Regions from separate parts of the Homo sapiens genome. Here region 1 is linked to region 2. Evidence: fine-mapped expression QTL. Tissue or cell type: whole blood. Region 2 holds a variant in brackets; the other region holds the start of a gene. All regions are shown on one strand. Distances are from middle to middle. Region 1 holds the start of LINC00865 (long intergenic non-protein coding RNA 865). Region 2 overlaps LINC01374 (long intergenic non-protein coding RNA 1374).

Region 1 (16,304 bases), 60 kb before region 2:
GCAAAACCCCATCTCTAGTAAAAATACAAAAATTAGCCAGGTGTGGTGGTGCCTGCCTGTAGTCCCAGCTGCTTGGGAGGGTGAGGCAGGAGAATCACTTGAACCTGAGAGGTGGAGGTAGCAGTGAGCTGAGATCACATCACTGTACATCAGCCTGGGCGACAGAGTGAGACCTTGTTTAAAAAACAAACAAACAAACAAACAAACAAACAAAAAACTCTGAACAGGTAATTAGAGTCTGAGAAGTTTCCATTGTAGTGGAGATAGCAGAAAAGGCTCTGTACAAGAGTAGCTCTTGAGTATTCCTTAGTGAATACTGAAGAATTAACGAACACCAAATTTAGCACAGGTAGAAACTGAGCCAAAGAGTGTTTGTTTCCATTCATGTATATTAAAAGTCTTAAGTTCATGCAAAGCCTCCCAAAGTTTCTATAAAACAATGCTTGAAACCTCATTCCAAAAGAGGCAACATTCTTAAATGGACATATCTTCATGCTGAAGTCTTCAGAATTCTGAAACCTCATCTACTAAACTAAAAGCTGACATTATTTGAAATAAATACTCTTGTTGAAACTTGGGTTTGAAATATTCTGTTGCATCCCAGATCTGTTGATCATCTGTTGTGCCTGAATTTCTGTAGGGACAATATTTAACCTTTGTGTTAAGTGGTTCTTAAATGGCACTGTGAGGAGGGTAGTGTCACATCAGCACACTACAAAGTGCCTCTGTATCCCCGGTGACATTTTGTTCTTTGTGAGACCTCTGAAGTATTGCTTAATGGCAATTGTTGTCATCATAGGATGGGTAAAGGTATCTTGTCACAGATTTAGAACTGGCTTAGAGACAGGAAACAAAGTGAATCAGTAGAAATGCACATTTGTTTGGAAGGAAAAGGGTAAACACAGTGGGGTTCCTCAGGGATTGGTCTGGCTCAATCTTATTTAAAACATTTATAAATGATCCAGAGAAGGGCTCACACAGTGAAATCTCCAAAGTCTGCAGCTAATGCTGAACTACTCTGGATATGGAAAAGCTAAGTGGATGAGTACCAATGCAGGGAAAATTTAGGAGGCTGTTCTAATATGTAGGAAAGCAGTAAACATAGACTTTTATTTTTTTTTAGAAGAGTTTCACTCTGTCACCCAGGCTGGAGTGCAATGGCGCAGTCTTTACTCACTGCAACCTCCACCTCCCGGGTTCAAGTGATTCTGATTCCTCAGTCTCCCAAGTAGCTAGAAATACAGGCACGTGCCACCACTCCTGGCTAATTTTTGTATTTTTAGTAGAGACGGGGTTTTACCATGTTGGCCAGGCTGGTCTCGAACTCCTGACCTCAGGTGATCTGCTGCCTGGGCATCCCAAAGTGCTGGGATTACAGGCATGAGTCACTGTGCCTGGACGACATGGACCTCTTAAGTGTGGACATGTGCAGTGTAATGCATTTAGAACAGAAAAATTCAAAATATTTTAAAAGGATGATTCTAAAATATGACACAGGAAAAAGACTCCAGGGTGGAGCAAATCTGCCGTCACAGAGATTCGCCAATGTAATTGTTTTCTCCGTGAAGACAGAAAACCATGATAATCAGTATGACATTAGATTTTCCAAAACTTCAGCTCTTGGCCATGCATTCATTAAATTCATATAATTGAATTAAATTAAATTCATATAATTTATATGTTTATTAAATTAAACTCATATAATTAAAATTTATATAACTAAATAAATATATAATATAAGTAAGTTCATATAATTTATATGTTTGGAGAGCACCTACTATACAGGACAGCTTGGGCACTGTGATAGATACTGAAGAAGCCTCCAAGGGACATGACCTGAGAAGTAGGCAGTGAGAGTGATGGGAGGAGACAAGTGAGGGTCTTTGACATTTGGGAACCTAGCGGTCAGCCTGGAGTGAGAAGTGGGCAAGGATCTCAGACACTCCTGGGAGCAGCTGCCACCAGGAAACTTCTAGTGATTGTGTCCAGGGAAAGGTTGCCTTTTCTGTTTATTCTAAACCATTTTATCCAGCTAGAAGTGCCTATCATGCTATTGCGTGTTCTTAGTCTCTGTGCTTTATGCTTTACATATTTAATTTGGATAATGTTGCACTTTATCTGAGCCTTGTGTTTCTGGAAAGCAGCACCTGTTGAGAATTTTGCCCATTCTTTTGTATCCCGGGAAATGGTTAACTGCAAAAGAATACCTTGTCCTCGCATCTTGCCAAGGTAGGAACTGTCTCCATCCCTCCTCATGATTCAAGGATAGCTTCTTTGTCTACCCAACTCTATAAAAGCCCAGAACCCCTTCCCTTTCTTTCACAAAATGAACATTCTCCTCATTGCAACAGCCTAAATAAAATCATCTCCTTAATTGTCTGGTGAATTTTGTTTTTCACAATTTCAAGTAATCAATTATAATAGAATATTTATTTGATCACTTATACTTTGTGCTTTTGCCATCAGGCACTGTGCTGGGCTGCAGATGTAAAGCACTGAGCAAGGCAGACTCTCTCCCGGCCCCCCAGCTCACAGGCTAGTAGGAGCATCAGATGATCAAACAAGGAATTATGAAACAGTGGATTGACTGTTGTGATAGGTATACAGGTGAAGTAAATGAATTACTGATTGTAAAAAAAAAAAAGAATTTAACCCAGTATTGAAAAATGCAGTGTTTGAGTTGCCGTTAAATGTTTCTTTGACGTACATCTTGAAATACAGAAATTGCTTTTATTGAGGAACAATAGGACTCATTATATAAGGGCCTGACTCAGCTGTGGGGAGGCTGGGCCATGCTTCTGTTCTGGCTGCTCAGAGGACTCCCAGAATGGCTGGAAAATGGTCACATGGATTCCCTGGTTGAAGGTAGAAAAGGGAAGAATATGACTGACACATAAACCTGAGTTTATCTGAATTTTTGATGTTTGGCACAGGGCACTACGAACTTGCTAATGGTCTATTGAGAAGACAAAATTGCAAGCCAAGGCCTTGGAACAAGAAAGCATTAGAAATATTTTCTTCGATCCTATTTTGTCTGGTGGATTACCATGGCAATGGGCTACTGGGAAGAGACAGTTAGTTCTACTAACACATTATTTTGTATGTGAAAACTTTGCTCAGAATGGTATTTGGTCTAGGACTTTGCCTGACTTCCATAGTGTGGGGAACTTAGTGTTTGAATAACATTGCCTAACAGATTCTGGTGTTCAAGTGTTTTCTAAATTTTAAAACCTTACCTCAGGACCTTGAAATAGGCAATGATATGTGGAGATACAGATCCTGGCTGCTATGAGCACATAAAAATAATAAATATGTTTAAATAATAATGCTTTAAAATAATAACAAATATTTTTTATTATTAAGATGATGAATAAAAATGATTAATATAAAAGTGATCAATTGTAAAAATTCAGAGAAAATAAATAACAAGAATGAAATAGTATTTATTAGTATCTCCTCCCTAACAAGGTAGTTATTATTTTACCCTCATTTTACACATGAATCAGCTAATACTAAGGTTCACCACTCAGGTCCGTTTGACTGCAAAACTCACACTCTGCTATATTGTTTCCAATTCTTGACTGTCATATGAATTCTGGTCACTGCCTTGAAACTGACTACTATAAAAGAGAAGTTGCCCCAAACCTGGTGTGGGAAGGAATCTTTTTACATGATGTAATTTGCAACCTCATTCTGAGAAGAAATTAACATTCCTGACAAAATGCTTAAGTAATATTCTGGAAAACATTAATGGACCAAAGTCTTGTTCTAGGAAACCAGTCACCTATCTACCCCACTGAATGACATTCAACAATCTAGTGGCTTTTAACAAACATTCTCTTCTTTTTGTATTTTCCTATCAAATGTTCTTATGAAGAATGTATTAATATTTCTGATTGGCTTACTGGAGGCCTTTGTCCTTGAAGCAAGATTGTAACAAACTTTGACAGTGCCCATAACTAAAATGTCTGAAGGGTTTTTGTGAACACTCTAGACTGGTGTATTTGCTGTGGAATCAAACTTTCTTATCAATCCAGTGGATGTGGATCCCCTCACCTGCCTACTGCTTACCAACCTCCTCCCTGCTTCTTCGTCATTTCTTCCACCCCTCAGTATTTCTGTTCCTTGTTGATCTGGACTGGAGACATTGAGATGGCCTAGGCCCACCCAGTTGGAGCCCTGTTTTGGAGTATCTTTTTCCTTAGATGGTTGTGAGTCACTTCTCAAAGGCCAAGTGGAATTTTTCAGGAAAAATATCATGGGAAGGATACCTCATGAGGATAAGCTTAACTGTCCAAGATTTATCCTGAAGAGAGGGAAGGATGCACTGGGAGATAAACACCTGGCTGTTTTAAAAGGTCATTCATTCACAGTCTGATCTGGCTATCAATAGAGACCGTTTCACTGAATCCTGGAACACAAGAGAGAGTAGTTAGTTACCTTTGCAGCTTAAGAATGCTTAAGCCAAGTAAGAGAAAATACCACTTCCTCTGGTGGACAGTAAGTCAAGGGAAATATTATGAGTTTAAAAATGTTTTTATATATTCACAAATAAAAGAACCATGATTAAGAGACTCTGAAATGCTTGGAGAAACACTGTTCTTGTTAACATTATAGTTAGGGGCAAATCACCTCCCAAATGAATTGTTGAAGATGCTATTGGCCTGAATGGACCATTGATCCAATCCAGAAAATTATCATTTCTTTTTGTTTTGGCTGGAAGGCTTAGCTTTTAACATTTTGACAACAATTATAGAGAAAGAGCAATATTGCTTATTTAGCATCCTGCTGAATTTCCTTATTGTAGAATTTTCATCTAGAGTTTGGGTAACTCTAAAATGCTTCAGAGGTATTAACAACATTGCAGTCTTCACCAAGTGAGGAAAACCTACAAAAAATGTGTGTGTAGGTGCAATGAAAAATTTTCAAGTCAATGTAAATGTGTTATAAGAGTGGAGAACCTGGAATTTTTAGAAGTAACTCAGCCCTAATACTTTCTGTCAAAATATAGAAGGCCACAGCTTTAGAAAATAAATACAAAACCTCAAACTTCTGTCCCTTTGAAGAATAAGAAAATATGAAACATAAAAATAAAATATCTGGAAAATACAGAGACATTTTGTTTTGCATCTTCATTTTCTTATTATTGACAAATTGAAAATTCCTGTTTTGTATTAAGCACAATGTTTGCTGTCATAAAACGTTTAAGCAGTGTGATCTGGGTTTATTTTTTGGAGTTGCCATCAGGGAGGACAGATTGCTTTTTTAAAAGTTACATTTCATTTTTTAAACCTTGAGCTAAAAAGCCTTTGGAGAATTGGGGGCACTGTCAGTGAGGTGCCTAACTCCTAGGGAATAGAAATAGAATGGCCTGGATGAAATATTTTTGTAAACTTCTCAAAATTCAAAAGTGTAACTATATGAATTTACTTTCTATTTAGTCCAGTGGATAAAAAGTGAAAGTTTGCCTTAAGGTTCAGAGTCTTGTGCTAAATTTGTTCAAAATTTCATGTGAAATAGTTACCAAATGGATACTTCCACCACACTTATCTACTTATGGTATCTGGTATTAAAAATAAAACCAAAGGAAGAAAAAGGCTGCTAATAATGGCAATGAAAACAGCTCATTCATTGGCTTTATTCCTTAGGCAAGGATTTCCAGAGCACCTTGATAGGTCTTAAGGATGTCAGATAGTGGGCATAGAGTGATGAGGAAGACAGGCACCATCCTTACCCTCATGGAGACTCTAGTTTAGTAGGAGAGGCAGGCCAAATGTGCAAAGGCCTGCAGGAGGCAGGAAAGGGACCTAAATTTGTGAAATGGTGTGAATTGATGGGAAGTGTGACAAACCAAAAAGAGAATGCACTGATTAAAGCTTTTCAAAAGAAATACTGTGTGGACCATGGAATGCATCTGTAAGCAGATTAGTCCTACATACCATTTGAAACCTCTACATTAAAGGAATAATTGCACAAATAACCATGCTAACCATGCAGGAAATAAGGACTATAAGGCATAATCCAAGATGTCATGAGAAAGTATAGTCATGATTCCTGACTATAATTCCTGAGGAAGTTGCATTTTACCAGAGACCCGAAAGATTTGATTAGTAGACTTAGTAGGCAGTAGGGACTGGAGACAGAAGATTTAAGGTGAATCTAACAGTAGAGGGCACAGGATATCTGAAACTTCCATGTGATTGGAGCCCAGTGAGTGAGGGGGGGAAGCAGCGAGGGATGAGCTGAAGTTTTAGGAGCCAGACAATGTAAGATTGAATAGGCTATGTTGAGAATTTAAACTTACTCTAAAACTAATGGGAATTTCTTAAAGGATTGTAAAAAAAAGGGAGGATTCGATCATATATATATATATATATATATATACACACATATATATGTATATATACATATATATGTATATATACGTATATATACATATATATATTACAAGCATGTTCTTATTGAGGTGTGGAGAATTCAGCAGAGGAAGAGGTCAAGGTGGGATGTGGATAGAACAGTTAGGAAGCTGTTGCAGCAGTTCAGGTGAAATGGACTGGGCTTTGGTCAGGTGGTTGGCCATTGAAATACAGAGACATTTTATCATTTGGGATTTGGAGTAGCTGTAACTGAAACTCCAAATTACAGTGGCTTGGACAGATATTTATTCCTCTCTCGCATAACTGAAATCTGTACATAGCCTAGAATTCAATTGGTGGCTCCACCATTCTTAGGGACCAGATTCCTTCCATTTTGTCAATACGTGACTTCAACCTCCTCATTGACGGTGGCTGCTTTAATTCCAGTCATGTTGTTTTCATCCCAGACAACGTGAATGATGAAGGGAGGAAAAAAGATACATCCCTTTCCTGTAAGAGAATTTCTAGAAATTATACGTGATGCTTGCAGTTACAGCTCATTGGAAAGCACTCAGTAGCATGGCCCCATGTGATTACAATGGAAGATAGACAATAAAATGTTTACTCTAGGTTACTACAGGTCTAGTTGAAAATCAGGACGTCTATGACTAAGGTTGAAAGGAACAGAAAACGTTGATAAATAGCCAACATCTGTAATACAAGTAGATAAAGTTGAGACTTGTTTTGGAAATAAAGTTAGCAGGATTTGATAACTGATTTAATGGGGGTTGGGTGAGGACAAGAGAAGGAACAAATCTCATTTCTACTTTTCTGAGACAATCAATGGTAGTACCTTTTTGGAAATGAAAAAAATGAAAAAAGGGGCAGGTTTAGGGCAAAGAACAAAAATTAATTAGCTGTTGGGAGCTTCCTCAAAATTATAGAGGGAGCAATTTATCAATTTTTTGTTGTTGTTCCATTCTAGAGATGTTTTATGCCCATATAGGAATGTGGGTGTGCATACCTGATATGTGTGTATACACACATATTTTATTTTTACAAAAATGGTAGGGTTTAATTATACCATTATATACCTAAAATCCTTTACTTGATATATATTGGGGATCTTTCCATATAATTGCATGAAGAAGTGCCTTACTATTTTTAATCATCACAGAGTATTTCATTGTATGGCTTTGCCATAATTTATTTAACCAGTTCTTATCTGTACATTTGTTTCTGTTTTTTTCAGATTATAAAAAATGCTGCAATGAATGTCTACACTTTAAAGTAAAATTGTTGGGTTTAGGGGCACATTATTGAAAATTTTGGCTTGCGTATTTTTTTCATAGAGGTGTCAGCAATTTCTACTCCCACTGGCAATATATCGGGATGCCTGTTTTCCTTTACTCTTGTCAACTCAATGTGTCAAGCTTTCTGATGGTTAAAATAATATTAGATTTTTGTTTTAATTTGCTTTTTCTTAGCAGAAATGAAATAAAACACTTCACATGTTTAAAATGTTTTATTTCTTTTTCTAAACATGTCCTCATTTTTGCTATTGGATTCTTATTTTCTTATTTAATTGAAGGAACTGGTTATACGTTAGATTATCTGTTTTGCAAATATTTTCCTGTTTATCCTTTTTTGTCCTCATAGTAAATTTCTTTCTATAAATTCAACTTATTTACTATGAATAGCTTCTTGTTATTAAGTAGGTTTAATACAGTTACCACGTTGGTTTGCATGCTTTAAACTTTATTCTCCTCTGTAAAATACATCATTTTACAGAAATGAGCTCATACTGAATATATCTTTTAGGTTTCTGCTTTTATTCTCACTTAATAATAAAAATCTTTCTAAGTCATTCATTGTTTTAACAAATTATTTTTAATTGTTTCATACATTATTCTGTCATTTGGAGTTAACAATAATTTACTCAAGCAACCCTCCCGCTGTTGCATAATTAGGTTATTTTCATTTAAAAAAAAACCGATATAAGCTACAGCCATGGTAGTTTCACTATGATAAAGTCCTCAAAGTAAAATTTGGAGGTCATTGTGCAAAAGTACTCTCCTTGTGCTTCAATGCTTCCCGCAGCTAGACCAAGCTCCGCGGGCAGGAGCTGGAGTCCAAGCTAGGGGAAAGAAGGACCTTCCGGGCCCATAAGGCGGGAGGCAAGGAGGGCCCCTGGGCAGCCCCGCGCTTGCGCGCCAATCACGGCCGTTATGGATTTCGATACGTTACCAAACGGTCTCCTACAAAGGCAGAAACCGTTTAAATATTTCAGAAGGATTGATTTTCATTTTGCAAATATAATACTGGTTCATTTTCTTTCTCTTCCTCCATCCATTCTACTATTGAACATAAAACGTGTCAATAGTATTGTAGTTCAGCATGTATCTCAGGATATTAAAAGGGCAGTGTGACTCAGCTAGAAAAGGATGAACTTTCCCCAAAGATAAAGTGACCTATGCGGTAAGTCCTACGGGACTTCATATCCTCATTGGAGAGAGGTTTAGGGTGTTTCTAGTTGTAGCAGGGTTAGTTGCACCTTAGGTTGAAGCAAGATTTTGCTACTGGAAATTAAATATGGTAAAAGGAGGTGCTCTCGGCCGCCAATTTGACAAGGGATGGACCGTGCTGGTTTTGTATCAACTGGCCTAAGCTAGAACTTCATTTCCATTATGTCTCCATATCAGGTTTGGCCAAAAGATATATCTATGCCAGATTTGGGAAGCAGAAGTGAAAGAGTAACCGTTACTCTGTGTAGCTGGTGCGGAAGGAGAGAAGTGTAGATGTACTGCTTGTGGGCTCTAGCTTGTCCTCGCCTGCCTCTGTCTTGACTCCAGCTGGTGTCCTTTTCTGCCTGCCTTGCTGACCAACAGCAGCCCCAAACCCACAGTCAATGCAGAGGCAACAGCCTTCCATGCACTTCTTCGCCAGCTCCTGTTGTGGTCTCACTCTTGCAACTGGATGTTCCCAGTTCTCTATATGTAACCTGTGACTTTTCCTTCACTTGACTACTTCAGGAGAGGTGAATAGAGACTTTTCTCCAATTCTCCACCTTCCAACGGTGGCCTTACTTCCCCGTCTCCTCCCACTATTGTGCAAGGTCTAATTTTTTAATCCTTAGACTATAAACTCTGTGGAGGTAGCCACCTGTTTAGTTTACAGCTATAGTCCCAGCGCCTGGCACCCAGAAGACACTCATTAAATGTTTGAAGAATTATTAAAGCCCCCAATAATTGATAGCCCTTATTATTTATCCAGTACTTAGATTCTCAAATATGAAACACGAACAACTTGGTTTCATTATCTGGCTTAAAAAGCTTATCAGGGAAAAAGTTTTTAAAAATATATTTTGGGCAGCATTTGAGTCATTTCCCGCACCCCCAAACCTATGTCAGTCGATAGGAAGTCTGAAATTGCCTTGAGTTCTGTAGGCAGGACACTTCAGTGGGCTGAAAAGTGTTGGGCTTATACCTCACTGCTCACTGCTCATCATAACTCTTCCCCTCTTTGCTTGGATTTTTTTTCTTAAATATGCCATGGTCAGCAAAATTTTTATTTCCTTTCTTCTGTAAAGTGACTTCTTTAAAAACCCTAATTATCTTATACTACCTAAGTTTTAAATTGTCTGAGAGAAATATTTTCTTTTTGTTTTACCTAAGAGTGTCTTTTCAATTTTCTTTTATTATCTTTTCAAAACCATATCACTCAACCATCTACAGCTTAGTGTGCAGCATTGTGGTATGAATATGTGGCTGGAAAGTCAGGGATTTAAAAGAACTATGAAATATATATTTTGACTTTTGGGGATAATTTTCTGGGAACAGATTTTTAAATACCTCAAGCCTTTTTTATATACTAATATCCTACCAAATATATGCCATTTTAGCAGCTCATAATAGTTATTAATAAAATATTATGGTTGTTATTCTATTGTTTAACTCTTCCCCCATGTCTTCTCATGAAAAGCTCATATACATAATGTATATTGTATTCTTCCATACTGACTATAACATATTGACTGTTCCTGACCCTTCTGTTTAACCAGTTTTAGCATTTTTCACTTTCCTCATTTTCAGTCATTCTTCTCTTTTTGAAGTATTCCCTGTTCACTTCCATCAGGTTGGAATTTCACTTTGGCCTCACAGTCTACTCAATCTCTTTAATGTCCCATGAGCACATCTTTCATGGCATCTAAGTAGGCTACCATGTAATTCAATCATTTTTCACACTTCTTAAATGTTAAAAAAATTAATACATAAACACTTAGAAAAGTAGAAAATTCTTCATTTAATTATATTAACTCTCAACAATCCTTAAAGTTCTTTAATTGTAAATTTCATTAAGGTAACTTAGGTTCTTGTTCATAAAGTCAAAAAGTTGTATGTCATGTAATGCAAATTACACCATTATCCACTCTTCTCCATCTCTGATTCTCACTCTCCAAAGGCAACAACTTTCATCTCTTTTAACTGTTTTTTTTTCTATTGTTTACTGTCACAAGCCTATAATATACCTCTCATACTATTTATTTTTCAGTTTGGTTCTTATCTATTGCCTTTCTTCTACAAAAGATGAGGAGTTGGCTGTCTTACAACTGGGCATGTAGCTTCTTCTTTCATTTCTTAATCTTGCAATATCATATTTTTAAAAATCTTATCAGTGTTTAGTGTTTATTTTGACAATGTAAATATTATTCACAGATGAACTTGTAGTGTATTAGGTTTACTTCTTTTTTGTAGACCTTTGCTTTTGTTTTTCCTTGACTATGCATTGCCTTGATTTTTGTTTAGTTAGTTTTCTAAGTAGTTATTATCAGTTCATTCTGCCAAATTCTGACAAGTCTTAAGTGCCTTTTGATACATTCAAATGAAACTATCCAGTTTCTTTTATTTTCCTTTTTTTCCTGGAGGCCACGGTCCTAGGTACATTGCCTTCATGAGCTCCTTCCTCCATAAAAAATAAAAATTATTTTACAGCCACGTTGGTATAAAGGTAAATATGATCAGGGTGGATTTATTATCATATAGTCACTGTTATTATATTAATTTTATCTCCTAATTTTAAAGGAAATTAAAATGACGACATTTTTGTAAATTCCTAACAGCGTCATGGGCCCTCAAGCACTATGCCTACTCAGCCTAATGGATGAGTCGGCCCTACGGAAGGCATTCTTTGCTTCTGAACCCCTCTTTTCTCCTGTTCCAATCTGGACTACTTATTCTGTAGGCCCTGAGATGTTTTCTTACTGTTATCCTGACAATTCAATTTTTTTCTCTCATATATTGGATCCCCTATTTCTGTGAATATGTGGCTGGTTTTCTTTCTGGTAGTACGCCTTCATTTTGATAGAGTGCATCTTTCAGAAGGCTCTGCTATAGCATGTCTGGAGGTAAATATGAGGCCTTGCATGTGAGATAAATGTTTCAATCTACTCTCATAATTGGTTGTATAGAGGAAGAGTAATCATTTTCTTCAACAGTAAGTTCTTAGTTGAAATGAACTTCTGTAATACAAGACAGATCAACAAGAGAAAAACAGAAGTGTATTAACATGTGTATTTCATACATACACCAGAGACACCCAGGGAATGAGTAGTTCTCAGAATTGGCTTTGAATTCTGGCTGATATAGCATCTTCAATAATGAACAGCAAATTTCTGGAGAGGTAAAGGAAAAGAACTTTAGGAGTGGCAACTTGTGGGAAGGCAAATGCATAGCAAATAAAGGCTAGCTAGTAATGTTTGTTAATGGAGATTTCCCTGGTATCATCTCCAGGTGGTAACAGTTTAAAGTTGTCTTATGTGGTTATCTTTTGGTCTCCCTGGTAGAAGGGAGGCAGAATACTTTTAGTTTTTGTATGTCCTGCTTTTAGGCAAATAGAGGGATGGCAGAGAGCTTCTCTGCATCTGCTTCTTCTTAATTACCTGCAGCTCAATAATCCTTTATATTTTGGAGTAGCACAACAGATAGTTTGGCTGGATATAGAATTCTGGGTTGAAAATTATTCACCTCCTAGATTTTTTAAAACTGCGTACATCATATATGTTCATTGTAAAGAATGAAAAACATATAGAAAGAAGAAAATAAACCAAGCCTGAATGCTGCACCCTAAATTAGCCATCAATATTCTGGGATCCTTATCGATAAGGGGGTCAAATAGTCTGTTTGGAATGTACCCTGTCACTTGCTCCCTGGTTTTCAGAACAGTCTTACTGCCTTTAGGGCGACTCTGGTCCTAAAGTCCAGAGCTTTGCTGAATTGACATCTCTGGAGAATAAACCAGTTTACTGCCAGTGGGGAGTGGATATGGACTGCTAAGTATTGAGACTTCCAGTTCCCCTATTTTTCATCTTACCTGTTCCACCATTGGGCACATGCCACCTCCAATTCAGGGCTTTTGAGGGATTTGCAGCAGAAACTACTCTGTTTATATTTCTGCCACTGCTGGCTTAGGTTTTCGCTTTCTCATCTTTGCTAAAAACTGCTAATAAAACATCTGCATTGTTGCTTCCAAAATTGTATTGCTGTTGTCTCTTTGCCACTTCTATTCATTCTGTGGTTTGACCTTTTAAATTAATATCTTTAGGATCCTTATAGTGAGCTATGGGAGGGAGTAAAGGTATATGTCCATGTTCATTTTCTGATGATTAGTGGGAAGTGTCTCATAACATTCTTGTATACATTTATTTTTTATTTTTTTGAGATGGAGTCTGACTGTCACCCAGGCTGGAGTGCAGTGGCCCAATCTCTGCTCACTGCAACCTCTGCCTCCCGGGTGCAGGCAATTCTCATCCCTCAGTCTCCTGAGTAGCTAGAATTACATGGACACCACCCTGCCCAGCTAATTTTTGTATCTTTAGTAGAGATGTGTTTCTCCATGTTGGCCAGGCTTGTCTCAAACTCCTGACCTCATATACCTTGACCTCCCAACATGCTGGGACTATAGGCTTGAGCCACCGTGTCTGGCCTTATATACATTTTTATACACTATTTTAGTGCTCTAGAATCCTTAGGGCAAAGTAACTATGTGTGTGGTATGTCTGTGTTAAGGATAAGATGGTATCAGCCCTAGAGTCTGATGCATAGTTGAGCCTTAATTTTATGCTATTACTATATTTATTTAATCAAAAACTTATCTTCCTTACTCCTTTTCCTCACATATAAGTAGCTTAAGTGTTAAAATATATTCTTTCTTCACACAATGACATTAAATCTATGTCAAAACAATTACCTTTCCAGGAACAAATAGAACCTGTCTTGCTTGGAACTTAAAAATAATTTTTCAAAATCCAGCAGAACATCTCTCCTTTTTGTAAAGCATGATTATGTCCTACCTACACACATTAGGAGAAACTATACCTTAAAAATATAGAAAATTTATGTTGGGGTGTGGCGATTCATGCCTGTAATCCCAGCACTTTGGGAGGCCTAGGCGGGCAGATCACTTGAAGCCAGGAGTTCAAGATCCACTGACTAACATCATGAAACCCCATCTCTACCAAAAATACAAAAATTAGCTGGGCGTGGTGGCACATGCCTGTAATCCTAGCTACTTGGGAGGCTGAGGCATGAGAATCACTTGAATCTGGGAGGTGGAGGTTGCAGTGAGCCAAGATCATGCCATTGTACTCTAGCCTGGGTGATAGAGCAAGACTGTATCTCAAAAAAAAAAAAAAGAAACAAACAAACAACAACAACAAAAAACAAAAAAACTGTATATATAGAAATTTAAAATATAAAAATTTATCATAGCTGTAGACATAAAAGTTATAAAAATAAATCTACAATCATTTCAGTTTTTATTAACTCATTTACTTCTGATACTAATTAAAAATCTCTCATATAAGTCCATTTATAAGTCCAAATAGAATAAACAAATGTTAAGTATCAATAATATTTAAATTTTTTTTTTATTCCAGACTCTGTTGGGTACAAGTGACACAGAAAGTCATCTCAAACTAGCTGAAACACAAAAGGTAATTTATTTGTTTCAATACCTGGAAATTCCAAGAGTTTTTTTTAGCTCTAGTTATAGCTGGATCAAGATGAGTGTCAAATGATATAATGATATTGTCAGTGTTTGAGTGTCTTATCTATCATGTGTCTATCCATACATATCTATACCTACATATATACATATATCACACACGTTTTATAAAAAATTTATCATGTCGACAATAATATTTAAACAAATACCCAAATAAATATTAATCATTGAGTTTTCTCAGAAGGCTAAATCACTTACAAACAAAATGGAACATTTTTATATTTTTATAATTTCCTTCTGGTACTGTGGATCACAGCCACAGAAGGAAATCAGTCTAGTAATATTATAGATAGGACATTCACTGGTCCCAATCTGATTTACATTTTCTTATGGACATTTGTGAATTTTTAGCTCTGCTTAGCATCTAAAATCCAGTGTATGTTTGGAATCTTTTTCAACATTATTAGCCATAGTGTGGAGGAGAGACTGCCTCACCCAATGGGAGATGAAAATGCCAAACTCTTGCTTGCCTAGACTCCCTTGGAGCTAGGACATGACCAAGTGAGGTACATTCCACTAATCAGATTCAGCCATGGAAGCAGGAACCAGTAACTCAAAGAAGCAGGGACTGAGAGCCTCCATTCAGACTGAATTCCTAGTGCAGCTGTGGCAGCAGAGCTAGAGGCAGTGTCACAGTGCAGTAGTGGAGGGGTTGGTGGTGCAGGCTGTAGAGTCTTTTGCTTGTTAGTGTTGGTAGGGATGTCAACATTAGGTGAGCTGTGTCATGTCTTGGTGAGCCTGTGTTTCATAGAACCTGGCTCTTCATACATGCTGGCAATGTAATCCACCCAATATCATTATCACAAACACCTTTCCCATTGAAATTAACCTGAGTTGGTTTCTGTTGCTTGCAGCTGATGAATGGATGACCTTCTCTTCCTCTATGTCATCTCCTTTAGTTATGTATTTATTAACTTAAATCTCATATTACTCTCTTTGGCCTCTGCTACCTGAATCTTCTGGTATCAGCTGAAGAGGGAGTCTGGGAGGCACAGAACTGGAAGTAAGGCCATACTGGGCCTGGGAGGCAGAGAGAGTCCTACTGGAGGGCCCTCAGAAAGTGAATTCAGCAGGCACCAGCCTCCAGCCACAGGGTCCTATGCCCACACTTGCTTCCACAAGCCTGGTCCAGGCCACCATCATGTCGCCTGGACCATGGCCGTATTTCCTAGGGTCTGCCTACTCCTGTCCTTGTCCCTGTAAACACTTTATCAAACACAGGGATATTGTTAAAACATAATCAGATCATGTCAATTCTCTGTGAAAACCTCATTCTCTCAGAGTAAAAGTCCTTATAGAAGCCTAAAGGCCATACATGGTACCCGCTTCCTCCGAAAAATCGCATTCTCTTTATTACGCCTTCGATCCCTAGGAGAACCTAAGTTCAAGAGGAGATGCTGGGCAGGGAGGGGCCAGCCACTTGCTAGGGTGCCCCAGCCCCTGTCTGCTTCAAGAGCCAAGTCATTTTCTCCTGGACCCCTCTGAGCTGAAGACAGGAAGAGCCGGGGGAGGGGGATCTCTTGGTCTGCGCCTCAGTTTCTCAAGAACAGCAACAGCAGAAAAATAAATTGAGAGATGAAGGGGCTACCACCATCCAAGTGGCCACAACCATCCACTCCCATGCCGGCCTGGAGTTAGCAGACGGGCGCCACTTTGCTCTGCTTGTCCCACGCCCATGGAGGGGGGACACCGTCCGGAAGTGAAGGCCAGGAAAACAGAGGGGAGAGACAGCGGGGTGGGGTGGGAGCAGTCGCTGCTGTGAACTCGCTGGAGCCCAGACTCACGCAACTAAGGGGCAGCAGTGGGAAGAGAAACGGAGGGGTGGTGGGGGAGCTGGCGCTCTGAACGCCTGTTCCTTCTGTTCAGACTAGTCTTTGTTTATTTTGC
Region 2 (16,304 bases):
TTGCTGTGGCATATGTAAATGCTACTGGTTTTTGTATATTGATTTTATATCCTGCAACTTTACTGACTTTACTGACTATTAGAACTATTACAGTTCTAATAGTTTTTTTTTGTGTGGAGTTTTTAGGTTTTTCCAAAGATAAGATCATATCATAAAAACAATGTTAATTTGACTTCTTCCTTTCTGATTTTGATGCCCTTTATTTCTTTCTCTTGTTTGATTGCTCTAGCTAAGACTTCCAGTAATATGTAGAATATCAGTGGTGAAAGTGGGCAACCTTGTATACCATATCTTAGAGGAAAGGCTTTCAGTTTATCCTCATTCTGTATAATACTAGATGTGGATCTGTTGTATGTGACTTTTATTATGTTTAGGTGTGTTCCTTCTATACTCAGTGTTTTGAGAGTTTTTATCTTGCGGGATGACAAATTTTATTAAATACTTTTCCAGCGTCAGTTGGAATGATCATATGGTTTTTGTCCTTCATTCTGTGATGTGATGTATCACGTTTATGGCTTTGTGTATGTTGAACCATCCTTGCATCCCTGGGATAAATTCCACTTGGTCCTAATAGGTTATCTTTTAAATGTGTTGTTGAATTTGGTTTGCTGGCATTTTGTTGAGGATTTTTGCATAGGGATATTGGCCTTTACTTTTCTTTTTCGGATATGACTCTGGTTTTGGTATTAAGGTAATACTGGTGTCATACAATGAGTTTAGAAGTATTCACTCTTCCTCTATTTTTTGGAATAGTTTGAGTAGAATTGGTATTAGTTCTTTTTCTTTACTGGGAGACTACTTATTACAGCTTTGATCTCATTACTTGTTATTGGTCTATTCAGGTTTTGGATTCCTTTATGGTTCAATCTTGGTAGGTTTCATGTGTGTAGGAATTGATTCATTTTTTTTCAAGGTTTTCCAATTTATTGTCATATAATTGCTTATAGTAGCCTCTGGTGATCCTTTGAATTTCTGTGGTATTGGTTGTAATGTCTCCTTTTTCATCTCTGATTTTATTTATTTCAATGTCCTCTCTTTTTTCTTAGCTATGCTAGCCAAAGGTCTGTCAATTTTTCTTTTCAAAAAAGCAACTTCTTGTTTTGTTGATATTTTGTATGGTTTTCTTTATTTATTTCTACTCAGATCTTTATTATTTCTTTTCATCCACTAACTTTGCATTTGGCTTGCTCTTCTGGTTCTTTCAGATGCATCATTAGGTTGTTTATGTAAAATTTTTCTTCCTTTTTGATGTAGGCACTTATAGCTCATTACTGCCTTCACTGTATTCCATAGGTTTTGGTATGTTGTTTTTCCATTATCACTTGTTTCAAGAAATTTTAAAATTTCCTTCTTAATCTCTTCACTAGATTACTGGTCATTCAGGAGCATATTGTTTAATTTCCATGTGTTTGTATAGTTTCCAAAATTCCTCTTATTATTGGTTTCTAGTTTTATTGTACTGTGGTGAAAGAGGATTCTTGATATGATTTCAATTTTTGAATGTTTTAAGACTTGTTTTGTGGCCTAAAATAGGGTCTCTCCTTGATAATGATCCATGTCCTGAGGAGAATGTGTATTCTGCAGCCATTGGATGAAATGTTCTGTAAATATCTATTAGGTCCATTTGGTCTATAGTACATAATGAGTCCAATATTTCTTTGTCGATTTTCTCTCTGGATGATCTGTCCAACGCCAAAGGTGGGGTGTTGAAGTCTACAGTTATTTTTGTACTGAGGTCTCTCTCTCTCTTTAGCTCTAATAATATTTCCTTTATATGTCTGGGTGCTCCTTTGTTGGGTGCATATATATTTAAAATTGTTATGTCCTCTTGCTGAATTGACTGCTTTTTCACTATATGACCTTCTTTGTCTGTTTTTATAGTTTTTCTATTGAAAGCTATGTAGTCTAATATAATATAAGTATAATTACTCTTGTTTTTTTTTTTTGTTTGTTTGTTTTCCATTTGCATGGACTATCTTTTCCCATCCCCCTTAATTTCAGTCCATGTGTGTCTTTACAGGTGAAGTCTGTTTTTTGTAGGCAAAAAGTCACTGGGTTCATTGGGTCTTTTTTTTCTTTTTGATTCATTCAGCCAGTCTGTGTCTTTTGTTTTGAGAGTTTAGACCATTTACATTCAATGTTACTGTTGATGAGTAAGGACTTACTCCTGCATTTTGTTGTTTTCTGGTTGTTTTGTTGTCTTCTCTTCATTTTTCCTTCCTTCCTATCTTCCTTTTAGTGAAGGTCATTTTTTTCTGGTGGTATGTTTTAATGTCTTGCTTTTTATTTTTTTGTGTATCCATTGTCTGTTTTTAGATTTGAGGTTACCATGAGGCTTGGAAGAGAAAAGATGACTTTATCTTGTAACTTGAATACAATTCTTTGTATCTCTTTGACCATATTCATGTTTTCCTTTATATTTCTGATTATATGGAACATGTTTATAATAGCTGTTTTACTATCCTATTACTAAATTCTGCCATTTCTGAGTGTTTTCTATTGGTTGATTTTTCTTATTGTTATGGGTCATGTTTCCTGCTTCTTTACATGCCTTGTGTGTTGGTCACTGAACACTGTAAATTTCATATTGTTAGGTATTAAATTTTATTGTATTTCTTTAAAGAGTATCAGGCTTCGTTCAGTCAATTTACTTAGGATCAGTTTAACTCTTTAGTGGTTTGTTTGTAAGCTCTGTTAGGGTGGGTCCAGACAAGCTTCAGTCAGGGCTAACTTAGAGTCACTGCTAAGGTAATACTCTTCTCACAAGGCTTCCCAGTGCTCAATGTATTACAAGGTCTCTTCAGTCTGGCTGATGGGGTGGTGATATCTCTCCACTCTTGCTGTAGTTTCCAGGAATTATTCATCCTACTTCTGTCCGGTGTTTCTTTCTCTAGCCTTGTGAGGTGTCACCACAAAAAGGTACTGATCAGTACTCAGCCAAAGACTCAAAGGGATCACTCTGTGGAAGTCCAGAGGTCTCCCTCTGTGAAGCTCTTACCTCTTCAGTATTTTGTCCTACACATTTTAGTTGTCTTAATTTCCCTAAAGTTTAGTTTCTATTTGTTCAATTCAAGGAGACTCCTGGGCTCTATTTGGGTACTCTTCCCTGTGCTGTAACCTGGAAACTGCTTCTAGCAATAAGCTGGATCAGTTGTAGGGCGCAATTCACTTGTAGGGATTATAGTTTTATGCTGCTGTTCCCATATCTGAAAATAAATAATGCATTCTTTAATGTCCTCTGGATCCTTCTGGAGAACAGAATCATGTGGGGGGGTTCTTAGGCTCTCATAAATATATTGTAACACTTCCACTTCCATAAGCCTTTTGACCATTTCCTCAAAATACAGTAACACAGTTTCAGCATCCCCATATATTTTATTCTAGGACATTGCCATGTCAAGCCTATCCCAGCAGCGTATTATGACCAGTTACAAAGGCTTTGTATGATATTAAGCCTTGAATCATAGAAAAGTACTCCTATGTTAATACACTTGCTTCTATCCAAACTTATATTCTATCTTCCTTGTCCAACATCCCTCAGCTCTATCTCCCACATTTTCCTCTAAATCCTGCCAGTATGTAGTAGCATTAGGGGTTTATGTTGAGGGGAAAAGAGGGTGAATATTGGGAAGGACAAATATCTGATGACATTTTTATAAGATCTCCCTCCAAGGAGGAGGAAGCTTTTCTTCTCTTACAAGGGGAAGGGATTTGATTCTGTCACCTCAGAGGTCTCAGGACATTCTGGTGCTTTACAATTCTCATCTGTGTCTATCCAGATGTTTCTAAGGTATCAAGATGCCTCTTTGGTTTTTTCTATTAGGACTTGAATTGCTACAAGCATATAATCTATACTGCAGGTATTTCATATAGGCATTAAGTGATTCAGAACCAACTAATTTTTAGCATCATAAAATTAGGGTTTCACCGGCTTGTAGTTTGACAGGATACTTATTTATAAAATGATTTTCACAACAATCTTTAAAGGTAGGTATGATCTCGATTCAACCTTGGAGGAAACTGAAGCTCAGTAAAATTAAGTGACTAGCCCAAGGATGCACAGTGATCAATTGCAAAGAATGAACTCTATTTTGTCTCTGAAGTATGTGCACTGCCCATTATGTTACATAACCTTTCTTTATAGCTCCTATCAAGTCATTCTACATAAGAAACATCTTATGTGGGAAACACTTCAATCTAGCAACTGGTTACTGTAATGAAAAGATATAGTGAAACTAGATACTTGAATTGACCAGTTTATATATTAATAATTTTGTGATGGATTCAATTAAAGATTTTATGAAAACCTTGGAAGAGTATGAAATAATTATACAGTGTTTATTATTTTAGCTCTCATTTATCTATTTTGGATACCTGAACTTATATGTTAAAGAACATTAAGTACATATAGTTAGGTTGGAACTCAGCTGGGATTCAACTTGTTTGCTGAAACTTCAGATACTATAAACTAGTATCCTGTGTAGTCAGAATTATATTATCTTGACTCATTAACTTTATTTAGCATCTATTTTATACTACATACTGATTTTATTAACTTCTAATCACTCTTGTTTCACTTGTTTGAGATAGGTAAAGCAGAATTTATCTGGAGTTTAAGATTAAGGCTGACAGATTAAATCTGCTTCTGTTATTGTTTGTTTCTGATATTAAAAGAGACTTCTTATTATGACCCCAGTCCATCCAAATTGTATACTATAATGGATTCTATATGAATAAATTAAGGGATCTAGATTTTAATAGTAAAACCATTTTATAGCAGCAGTAGTTTTATAAATGGATATTTTACCTCTTAAACAAAATGTAATTGGAAAATAAAATACACTGTCATTCAAATAACATCTCACGTTATAAATAATCAGTTTGGATGCAGCTACAAGATTTTTCTGGCACAGAAGTAAATTAAACACTTTAGTAAATTGTCAAACTGATGAAAATCCTAACCCTGTGCATGTTGTTTTAATGGTGTAAGAATATGGACAACAAGATGTTTTTGTTCTTTTATTTTTATCAGAGTAAATGGAAGAATAGTGTCACAGACAAAGGTTCTAGGATTTTCCTGGGAAAAGGAGGTTATAGCAGTTAGAAACGCCAGCAGTAGCTTACACCAATAATTTATTAAGATTTTTGTTTTTACATTATTGGCATTCCAGGGGTAGGTGGTTACTGTTGTAGGCTCATCTTCTCAACTCTCCCATCAGGGACCCAGTTACTTTCTATCATTCTGAACTGTTATTCTTCGCGTGTACACCTTCATTCTCCTGTTGGTTGCCTCACGGCTACGAGATGGCTGCTATAGGTCCAGCCATCAGGAAAAATGGGGAAGGAGCAGGACATGTAAGATCCTTTATCAGGCCACCTTCACATATATTTTCTAGACAAGGATTATATCACCGGGCCATATTTAGTTGCAAGGAGACTGGGAAAGTGAGGAACAGAATTGATTTGGCTAATCACAACTCATCTCCAGAGAATAGGCAATTTCTGCTTCCAAATAAAGTTGGATACTGTTCAGGAAGAACAGGCTGGATATAAACCGTTTGTGTTTTGGTCAGCAATATGTTCTGGTTTTGGTTTGGTGGGAAACAGGAAGCTTACTGAGGAAGGGAGACACCTGGAAGTAGTCTTAATCTGGCCATAAGGACCATGACACTCTAATATTATTTGATGGTGTGTGGGTTTCTTTTTTTCCAGAGACATCTATAAACATGGCTTTGTTACTAAGCCAAAGCCAATTATCTTTCAAAGTGATCTTCAGTTTGCTATTAGCTTCCCAGAAAGAACAGTATGATTATTAATAAGATTGAGACTAATAAACTACTGATGAGCACCAGTGAGCTAATTTGTAACCTCATTTTTATAAATGACATAAGCTTTTCACCCTAAGAAAAAGAGATATATTGAGAAGACAAACAAACAAAAAATCCAAAACTAATCTTCTTCCTCCAGACAGAATCTCTTCCTTCTTTTCTTCTAACATGAAATATTGTTGTTAACCAAATATTTTTCTTTTAAAATTCTAGGAATCACTTTTTGGAAATCTAGAATTAGTGAACTCAAATGGTTGTTAATGTTTTATTATTGAAATAGTGAAGCAAACTAAAATAATTAAAACTGATATGGATTACCATATTTATTAGCATATATTTCCTACATAATAAATAGTTTGCAGTTGATATGAGAAGAGAGGAAGCTGTGAGATTACCTGACTGGATGGACCTTTGCAGCACTGACACCTGCTGCTGAATTTCCAGAAATTTCTCCTGGCAAATCTCTGTGCTGAGAAAGGAGTAAACCAATTTAGAGAAGAGGCTTACGAGTCCAAACAGGAGCAGATGATGAAGAATCAGATAAACATTAACGCCTCAACCTACTTAAGCAACTAAGATTCAATTAAACCCAGTTCATACCTCTTTGGTAAGTCTGAAGTTTCAGAACACTTGCTCTAAAATTCAAATTACTGAGCTGTACAAATTATTTTTCCTCCAATTGTGTGATGAAATATGGGAAAGACAGAAAAAGACACAAATGCATATGGTAATCCAGAAAAGATTCCCCCTCCCTATTTTCTTTTGAGTTAGATAAAAGCTAGAGCACCTAACAGAATAAGATACCGAGAGAACCAGTGTAGTCATCCAAAACAATGAAACAACTATTTTAATTCATAAAAAAGCATCATTGTAGTAGCCTTCATTAGGTATTCCTTCTAAAGTCACTTTAAAGGAAAAAGAATATGTTCAGACATAGCAAAAGAAAAAAAACACGAAGGCAAAATTCCTTCAGATCAGGTTTTGGAGATTTTTTTTATATTAAACCCATTTTGTAAATAGGTTTTCCACCTGATTTAAACCAATCGTTTTGTTATTCAAAAGTCTAGGTTGTTGTTTTGCATTTTAAAATACAGCCATTCCCCAGGGAACTGTCTCTGCGATTAGAGGGAGAATTTTAAATTCCCCTTTCCACAGATAGATGTGTACAGGAAAGAACACCAAACTGAAAGAGCAGCTTGGCTCTGCCACCTATCAAATTAGGTAAATCTGTCTCCCTCTGGGTTTCACTCTCTCCTCTGTAATATGATAAGTACCTAGATTGGACTAGATGATCTTTCAGTTTCCCTCTCTGAGTCCGTTTGGGGGCTGCTATAATAAATACCATAGACTGGGTGACTTAAACAACAAACATTTATTTTGCACAGTTCTGGAGGCTGGGAAGCTCAAGATCAAGGTGTTGTTGATTTGGCTCCTGGTGGGGACGTGCTAGTTTTGGATACGGCTTGTTTATCCCTGGCAAATCTTATGTTAAAACTTGTGGTGGTGTTGGGAGGGAAAACCTAGTGGGAGATGCTTAGGTCATCATCAATGGCTTGGTGCAGTTCTTTCAGCAGTAAATTCTTGCTCTAGTGGGACAGGATTAGTACTCATGAGACTGAATTAGTTCCTGATACAGTGAGTTGTTATAAAACCAAGACAACCATTGTGAAACTGCCTTTGCAAAGATTATGACGTGAGAGAAGTCTGGCATGGCCGCCTCCGTCTTGCCTCTAGCATCACAGGCTGGCTGTCTCCGCTCATTCCTGGGCATGGACGAAGCTAACCATGAGAAGAATTTAGTTTACAGTTTAATTGTGAAGCAAGGATAATAATAGTCGCTTCCTAAAACTGATCCGCTCCTTGTTTGGAGACTGAAACAGTCTTTGTAAGACAATGAAAGGTCACAAGATTAGTATTCTGAGAGGGGCCTGAATTCTGCTAAAATGTAAGTATAGTTAAATGATAAACAGCTGTTGTTTCCTAGCTTGTTTTCCTATAATCCCTTACTGCTCAGGAGTCATGAAGCAGAGGCCACAGACTTGTAATTTCACCAATTGCTCCTACAGGTAACATCACTATCGCAGAATGTAAGATTGGTCTTTTGAGATTGTTTAGATTTTTGTATTCTGGTGACAAATTGATTTCACCTAGACCCATGCCTGATGACTCAATTGGTCCTGTGACCCCCTTCCAGAGGCTGACTCAGTGCACAAGAACCATTTTCCATACCTCTATAATTTCATCCCTAACCAATCAGTAGCACCTGATTTCTTATCCTAGCCCCCCCCCACCCCCCCCTACCCCCCCACCCCCCACAAGTTATCCATAAGAACCTTAGACTGAGTTCTTGGGGAGGCTGATTTGAGTAATAAGCTTCATCTTGGTTAGCCCTGTGTTAATCATAAGTCCTTTGCCACAAAAACCTGCTGTTAGTGCAATAGCTTTTTTGGGCAGTGGGCAAGATGAACCCATATGCTTGGGTTTGTTTCCTCTTTGTGTATGTTCACTTCTCCTTTAACCTTCTATGTTATATTTAGACCTAGCATATGAC[C/T]CTCACCAGAAACTGAGCAGATGCTGACACCAGAACAGATGAAAAACTGACTTTTGAGGGAGAGGTTTGCATCTGTGGAGGAAATGAAGTGAAGTAAACAACAGATAGAAACAGGCTTTCTTTGAAGCCCCCCTTGTTGGGACCTGGGAAAGATGAATTGAGAGTCTGACAATTTAAAGCTCTGACAGAAATATTTACTGCTGGCTACGATTTATTTTTTTCTGAAGGCTGCTACCTGTGAGGTTTCATCTGCATAGTAAGACCCCTTTGCTAGTAAGGTGTTTCCTCTTCTCTTCCTTCCATAACCTGTTTTGCTACCATAACCTATTTTGCCATGCTCTAGAGCCCTCATTTCTTCTGTAACCTCAAGATGGTATAAAAGTGTCAACCCTCTTACATTTCTTTGAGTTTTAATATTTTATATGACTCTTGTGCACATATATGTATGTCATAAAATTTGAATGCCTTTTTCCTACTAATCTGTCTAGTATCAGATTGTTTTATAGACTCAAATTATTGAATCTTAAGGGGAAAAATGTAAATTTCCCTATAGGTTTATAGCTAGAAGGAACTTGCCTTGAGTCTCAAATGAGATGTTGGACTTTGGACTTTTGACTTGATACTGGGACTAGTGAACACTTTTGGAACTATTAGAAGAGAAAATTGTCTAATTGTGTTTTGAATGTGAGAAGGACATGAATTTTGGGGGGCCAGGGGCAGAATGCTATGGCTTGGTTATGGCTTGTTTGTTCCCACCAAATCTCATGTTGAAATTTGATCCTCAATGTGGCAGTGTGGGGAGGTGGGGCCTGTTGGGAAGTGTTTGGGCCATGGGGGAGGATCTGTCATGAATGGCTTATTGTTGTTCTCCTGGTAGTGAGTTCTCGCTCTAGTAAGATGGAATTAGTTCTTGCAGAAACAGATTAGTTCCTGAGAGAGTGAGTTGTTGTAAGGCCAGAATACTTCTTGATTTTAGTTCTGCTTTGCATGTGTCTACTTTTCCTTTGACTTTCTCTGCCATTTTTTGACGTAATATGTGGCCCTCACCAGAAGCTGAGCAGGTGCCTATGCCATGTTTCTTGTACAGCCTGCAGGATTATGAGATAAATAAACCTCTTTTCCCTGCAAACTACCCAGTCTCAAGTATTCTCTTATATCAACACTAAATGGACTAAGACAGGGCTCTTTTCCTGGTTTGAAGATAGTCATCTTCTTGCTTATCCTCACATGAGAAAAGGAGGGAGAGTTCATCTCTTTTGTCTCTTTTTATAAGAGGACTAATCCCATTCATGAGGGCTCTACTTTTATGACCTGATTACCTTTCAAAGGCCCCACCTCCAAATACCATCACATTGGGAATTAGGGTTTCAACATGTGAATTTGAGAGGACACACAGACATTCAATCCATAGCACTTTTTCAGCCTCAGTATTCTGTGTTTTCCAGTCTCTGTGACAGAGGCCTGTATGGTCTAGGCAGGCAACTTAATGGAAGAAAATGGGCAGGTTCAACTTAAGGCAAACTGAGGAGAGTGTGCCCAGGCTAAGGGACACAGCTACTACTCAGCTCAAGCCCACAGGTGTGAGCAAGATTGCAAGGCTCATGTTGTAATATCTTATTTTTCAGGGGAGACTGCTCAGAAGTCAATCTTTTTGCCCTTAAGTCTATTCTTCCACTCCCACCGCTTAGCTTTAAATTGTGCAGACTGACTCCTATAGGCTGCGGTTTCCAGATTCCATTTCAGCTGGCTTCTGTCTGGGTCCTACCAATGGGAGGCACTGGTGGGAGATGGGGGTGAGGAAAAAGGGAGAAACTTGGTTGTTTCTAACCCTGCCTCTCAGCCTTGAACAATGCCTCCAGCAACAGAAATATCTCCAAAATGACGCTAGCTTTTGAGAGACAGGCCTATTACAACTCCGGCTTCCACTGAGTGACCTTAGTTCTCTCCTCATCCCTTCCTTCACACCCTATATCTGCCTCCTCCTCTCTCTCCCGTTTCGATGTGACAGTGGCTTCCTTTTGTTGCTAATCTCTATGCTCCCTCACAATTCCCTGTTTATCAGTTCTCGCTTCACCTATATGACCAATTTTCTCCATTATGTACTTCGTGTGTCAAAGATTCAGAGTTATTTCTTTTCTCTGAGGTTGGACTCTGACTGATGTAGGCTAGAAATATAAATTCTTGCCTGAAATCTTCCCATTTTTAAATGCTGGTAGATTAGTCAGAATTCTCCAGAGAAACAGAATAAACAGGATATTAATTAATTAATTAATTTCTAAGGTATTTGCTCACATGACTATCGAGGCTGACAAGTCTATAATCTGCAGGGTGAGCTGGCAGACTGGAGATCCAGGAAAGCTGACATTCTACTTTCAGTCTAAAGGCAGTCTTCTCCAGAACCCAGAAGAGCCAATGTTGCAGATGAAGTCTGAAAGCAGTCTGTTGGGGAATTCTCTCTTCCTGGGGAATACTGGTCTTTCTGAAGGAGCTTACTCACATGGGGGAAACTTCCTTTACTCAAACTCTGCTCAAGGTTTCTCTTGCTCAAAAATACCCTCATAGAAACACCCAGAATAATGTTTGACCAGATATCTGGGCACAACATAGCCCAGCCAAGTTGACACATAAAATAAACCGTCACAACTGGCAAACAATTAAAAACACCCACTGGGTCAAAGAAAACATGACTTCAGCTTCCAGGTACATTTGTAACCTCTGTTCTCTAAATGTACATGATCAAACAAATAGACAAAGACAGATTTTGGCAAGCTTATAGAATTTCATGTCATAAGAAGTGTTCAATGTTGTATTCTCCCTAGGATAATTGATGCCAAGGAGTATTTGAGGAATATAAGCTGTGTGAGAAGAAGAGCCTCTGTTGTTGCAATCCTAGCACAGTGCCAGGCACTTAGTAAATGTACAATATATATCTGTTGAATGAATAAATAAAAGGAGTTAAATTTAATTGGATAGTTATTTAATTATCACCTGCTAGAGGCGAGGCACTGCATTAGGTGCTGTTGGAAATTCAAAGATGTGTAAGACACACCTTTGTCCAAATGCACTTGCAGTTTGATAATGCATGTAAGGCTAAGTGATAAAAAATTTTTGTTTCTCTTGAGAAAAAAATGAACAATGGATATATTATGGGCAATAGGTATTATATACTTAACCACATTTCCTTTTGATTTTGCTGTCTGGAAACACAGAGCTAAATTTCCTGTTCAAACCTGGCCGGAATACAGTAGCATCCTAGAGCCAGCTTACCTGTGCTTTTGTCCTTCTCAATAGTCCTTCTCCCTTCTGCTTACCCACCTGTTCTAATGCACATACCCCTAGGATTTTACTTGAAAAATAAACCTTTTATAGTTTTGTTGATTGGAGTCTCTGTAAGCTGACCCAGATCCTTTGTGGAATCAGGTAACCTGAAGTTTCTCGTGATTCAAAGGAGAAGTGACTCTGGCTCTTTGGATTAGGGAAGTGTTTATCCAAAGGTGGCATCTCATAATTTTAATTTCCATTTCCCTGATGATTAGTGATGTGGAGCATTTTTCTTACATTTCTTTGCCATTTGTATATCATCTTTTGTGAAATGTCTATTCATGTCATTTGCCCACTGTTTGCTAGGATTATTTATTTTTTCTTGCTGATTTGTTTGAGTTCTTTGTAGATTCTGGATATTAGTCCTTTGTTGGATGCAAATCCATTCTGGGGTTGTCTGTTTACTCTATTATTATTATTATCATTATTATTATTATTTTTGCTGTGCAGAAACTTTTTAGTTGAATTAAATCCCATTTTTTTGTTGTTGTTGTTGCATTTGCTTTTGGGGTTTTAGGCATAAATTCTTTGCTTAGGCCAATGTCCAGAAGAGTTTTCCCTAGTTTTTCTTCTAGAATTTTTATGTTTTCTGGTCTTATATTGAAGTCTTTAATCTATTTTGAGCTGATTTTTGTATGTGGTGAGAGATAGGGATCCAGTTTTATTTTCTTACATGTGGCCATTCAGTTTTACCAGTACAATTTATTGAATAGGGTGCCTTTTGTATACTTTGTCAAAGATTAGTTGGTTGTAAGTATTTGGATTCATTTCTGGGCTCTTTTTTTTTGTTCCATTGATCTATGTGTCTACATTTATACCAGTACCATGCTGTTTGGGTTACTACAGCCTTGTAGCATAATTTGAAGTCAGGTAATGTGATGCCTTGGTATTTCTTCTTTTTGCTTAGGATTACTTTGCCTATTCAGGCTCTTTTTTTGGTTCTGTGTGAATTTTAGGATTATTTTCTCTAATTCAGTGAAAAATGATATTGATATTTTGATAGAGATTGCATTGAATATGTAGATTGCTTTGGCAGTATGGTCATTTTCATGATATTGATTCTTCCAATCCGTGAACATGAGATGTATTTCCATTTGTTTGTGTCATCCATGATTTCTTTCAGCAGTATTTTGGAGTTGTTGTAGAGGTCTTTCACCTCCTTGGTTAAGTATATTCCTAGGTATTTTATTTTATGTATTTTTCGTCTGTGCAAAAGGGATAGATTGACTTCTTTATTTGATTTTAGCTTGGTTGCTGTTGGTGTATAGCAGTGCTACTTTGTGTACATTGATTTTGTAACCCGAAACTTTGCTGAATTTGTTTATCAGGTCTAGGAGTCTTTTGGAAGAGTCTTTAGTGTTTCCTAGGTATACAATCATATCATTGGTGAACAGTGATAATTTGACTTTGTCTTTTCCAATTTTGATGCCTTTTATATATTTCTCTTGCCTGGTTTCTCTGGCTAGGACTTCTAGTACTATGTTGAATACAAGTGGTGAAAGTAGGCATCCATGTCTTTTTCCAGTCCTCAGAGGGAGTGCTTTCAACTTTTCCTCATTCAGCATGATGTTGGCTGTGGGTCTGTCACATATAGCTTTTATTATTTTGAGGCATGTTCCTTATATGACTAGTACATTGAGGAATTTTATCAGAAAGGATGCTGGATTTTATTGAATGATTTTTCTGCATTTATTGAGATGATCATATGGTTTTCATTTTTAATTCTGTTTATGTGATAAATCACATTTATTGACTTGCATATGTTGAACCATACCTGCATCCCTGGGATGAAACCCACTTGATCATAGTATATCATCTTTTTGATGTGCTATTTCCTAGTATTTTCTTGAGGATTTAGCATCTATGTTCATCCAGGATATTGGTCTGTAATTTTCTGTTTTTGGATGTCCCTTCCTGGCTTTGGTATCAGGGTGATATTGGCTTCATAGAATGAGTTAGGGAGGATTTTTCTCTTTCTCAATCATTTGGAATAGTTTCAGTAGGACTGTACCAATTTTTCTTTGAATGTCTGGTAGAATTTGGCTCTGAATCCATCTGGCCCTGGGCTTTTTTTTGTTGGTGGTGAATTTTTTGTTCATGATTCAATCTCACTGCTTGTTATTGGTCTGTTCAGGATTTCTATTTTTTCCTTATTCAAGCTAAGAGGATTGTATATTTCCAAGAATTTGTCTATTTCCTCTAGGTTTTCTAATTCATGTGCGTAGAAGTGTTCATAGTAGTCTCAAATAATCTTTTGTATTTTTGTGGTGTTGGTTGTAATATCTCCATTTTCATTTCTAGTTAAGCTTAAACTAGCTAATGGTTCTATCAATTTTGTTTATCCTTAGAAGAACCAAGTTTTCATTTAATTAATCATATATATATTATATATATATAATATATATATTATATATATAATATATATTATATATATATATTATATATATATATAATATATATATAATATATATATATAACTAGTTTGTTGAGGAATTTTATCAGAAAGAGATGCTGGATTTTATTGACTGCTTTTTCTGCATCTATTGAGATGATCATATGTTGGTTTCAATTTTATTTAGTTCTTCTCTGATCCTTGTTATTTCTTCTGATAACTTTGGTTTGGTTTATACTTGTTTCTCTAGTTCCTTGAGGTGTGATATTAGGTTGTCAATTTGTGATTTTTCAGACTTTTTGATGTAGGCATTTAGTGTCATAAGCTTTTTCCTTAGAACTGCTTTTGCTGTATCCCAGAGGTTTTGACAAATTGTGTCACTGTTATTATTCATTTTGAAGAACTTTTTAATTTCCATCTTGATTTTATTGTTAACTCCAAAATCACTCAGGAGCAAACTGTGTAATTTCCATGTATTTGTACAGTTTTGAGGGTTCCTTTGAAATTGATTTCTAGTTTTATTCCACTGTGGTCTGGGAAGATATTTGATATGACTTTCATTTTTAAAAATTTATTAAGATTTGTTTTGTGCCTATCATATGGTCTATCTTGGAGAATGTTTCATGTGTTCATGAGAAGAATGTATATTCTGCAATTCTTGGGTAGAATGTTCTGTAAATATTTGTTAGGTACATTTGTTCTAGGGCACAATTCAAATCCAGTATTTATTTGTTGACTTTGTGTCTTGATGATCTGTTTAGTGCTGTCAGTGGAGTACTGAAGTCCCCCACTATTATTGTGTTGTTGTCTGTCTGTTTTCTGAGGTCTAGTAGTAATTGTCTTATGCATCTGGGAGTTCCAGAGTTAGGTCATATATACTTAGAATTGTAAAATCTTCTTCTTGGATTGATTGTTTTATCATTATATAATGACCTTCTTTGTCTCTTTTTTAAATGGTTGTTGCTTTAGTTGTTGCTTTAAAGTCTGTTTTACCTGATAGCTACTATTGCTCACTTTTGGTTTCCATTTATGTGGAGTATCTTTTACCTTGTGTCTATAAGAATCCCTTAATTGTTAGGTATGTCTCTTGAAGACAGCAGATATTTGTTTGACCATTTTTTTAAATCCATTCTGCCAATCTGCATCTTTTAAGTGGAGCATTTGGTTCATTTATATTCAACATTAATATTGAGACATGTGGTATTGTTCCAGTCATCATGTTGATTGTTACCTAGTTACTTTGTTTTCTTCATTATGGTACTGTTTTATAGGTCCTGTGAGTTTTGTGCTTTCAAGAAGTTCTATTCTGGTGCATACCGACCTTTGTTTCAAGATTTAGAACTCCTTTTAGCATTTCTTATAGGACTAGTCTGGTAGTGCCAAATTCCCTTAGTATTTGCTTGTCTGAAATAGGCTTTATTTGTCCTTCATTTATAAATCTTACTTTTGCTGGACGCAAAATTCCTGGCTGAGAAGTTATTCTGTTTAAGGAGGCCAAAGATAGAAACCCAATTCCTTGTAGCTTGTAAGGTTTCTGCTGGGAAGTTTGCCGTTAGTCTGATAGGTTTTCTTCTATAACTTACCTGTTTTTGTCTCTCTATTCTTAGAATTCTTTCCTTCATGTTGAATTTAGATAGCCTGATGACTAGATGCCTTGGTGATGTCTTTTTTTGCAATGAATCTCTTAGGATTTTTTTCAGTTTGCTGTTTTTGGATGTCTAAACTTCTAGCAAGGGTAGAGCAATTTTCCTCAATTATTCCCCTAAATAAGTTTTTCAAACATTTTGCTTTTTCTTCTCTTTCAGGAGCACCAAGGTTTGTCCATTTTACATAATCCCATATTTCTTAGAGACTTTGTTCATTTTTTAAAATTCTTTTTTATTTTTGTCTTATTGCATTATTTCAAAACCCTTGTTTTGAAATTTCCAGCTCTGAAATTCTTTCTTCCTACTTGGTCTAGTCTATTGTTAAAACTTTCCACTGCATTTTGCAATTCCCTAAATGTGTCTTTCATTTCTAAAAGTTCTAACTGTTTTTTCTTTAAATCTCTATCGCTTTAGAAAATTTTTCATTCATATTCTGAATTGTTTTCTTAATATCTTTATGTTGGTTTTCGCCTTTCTCTTTCATCTCCCTGAGTAACTTAATAATCAACCCTTTGAATTCTTTCTCTGGTGTTTCAAAGATTTTATCTTGGTTTAGATCCATTGCT

What was found. PIP is the estimated chance that this variant, and not a neighbour inherited with it, causes the effect.
Region 1: it holds the start of LINC00865, and the variant in region 2 is fine-mapped to the expression of LINC00865 in whole blood (TOPMed, PIP above 0.99).

What each region holds. Positions count from the first base shown.
Region 1 is chr10:89,820,912-89,837,215 of GRCh38, forward strand. LINC00865 (long intergenic non-protein coding RNA 865) reads left to right here and starts at 8,582. Exons shown (of 4, transcript NR_038382.1): 1 at 8,582-8,834; 2 at 9,059-9,393; 3 at 14,290-14,346. LOC105378424 (a long non-coding RNA gene) reads right to left here and starts at 9,910. Exons shown (of 3, transcript XR_946196.3): 1 at 9,121-9,910; 2 at 4,272-4,411; 3 at 2,609-2,855.
Region 2 is chr10:89,880,515-89,896,818 of GRCh38, forward strand. The region is part of intron 1 of LINC01374 (long intergenic non-protein coding RNA 1374); the gene reads left to right. Among named protein-coding and RNA genes, the nearest start is that of LINC01374, 35 kb to the left of the region's middle. The variant C/T (reference allele first, on the strand shown) is at 8,380.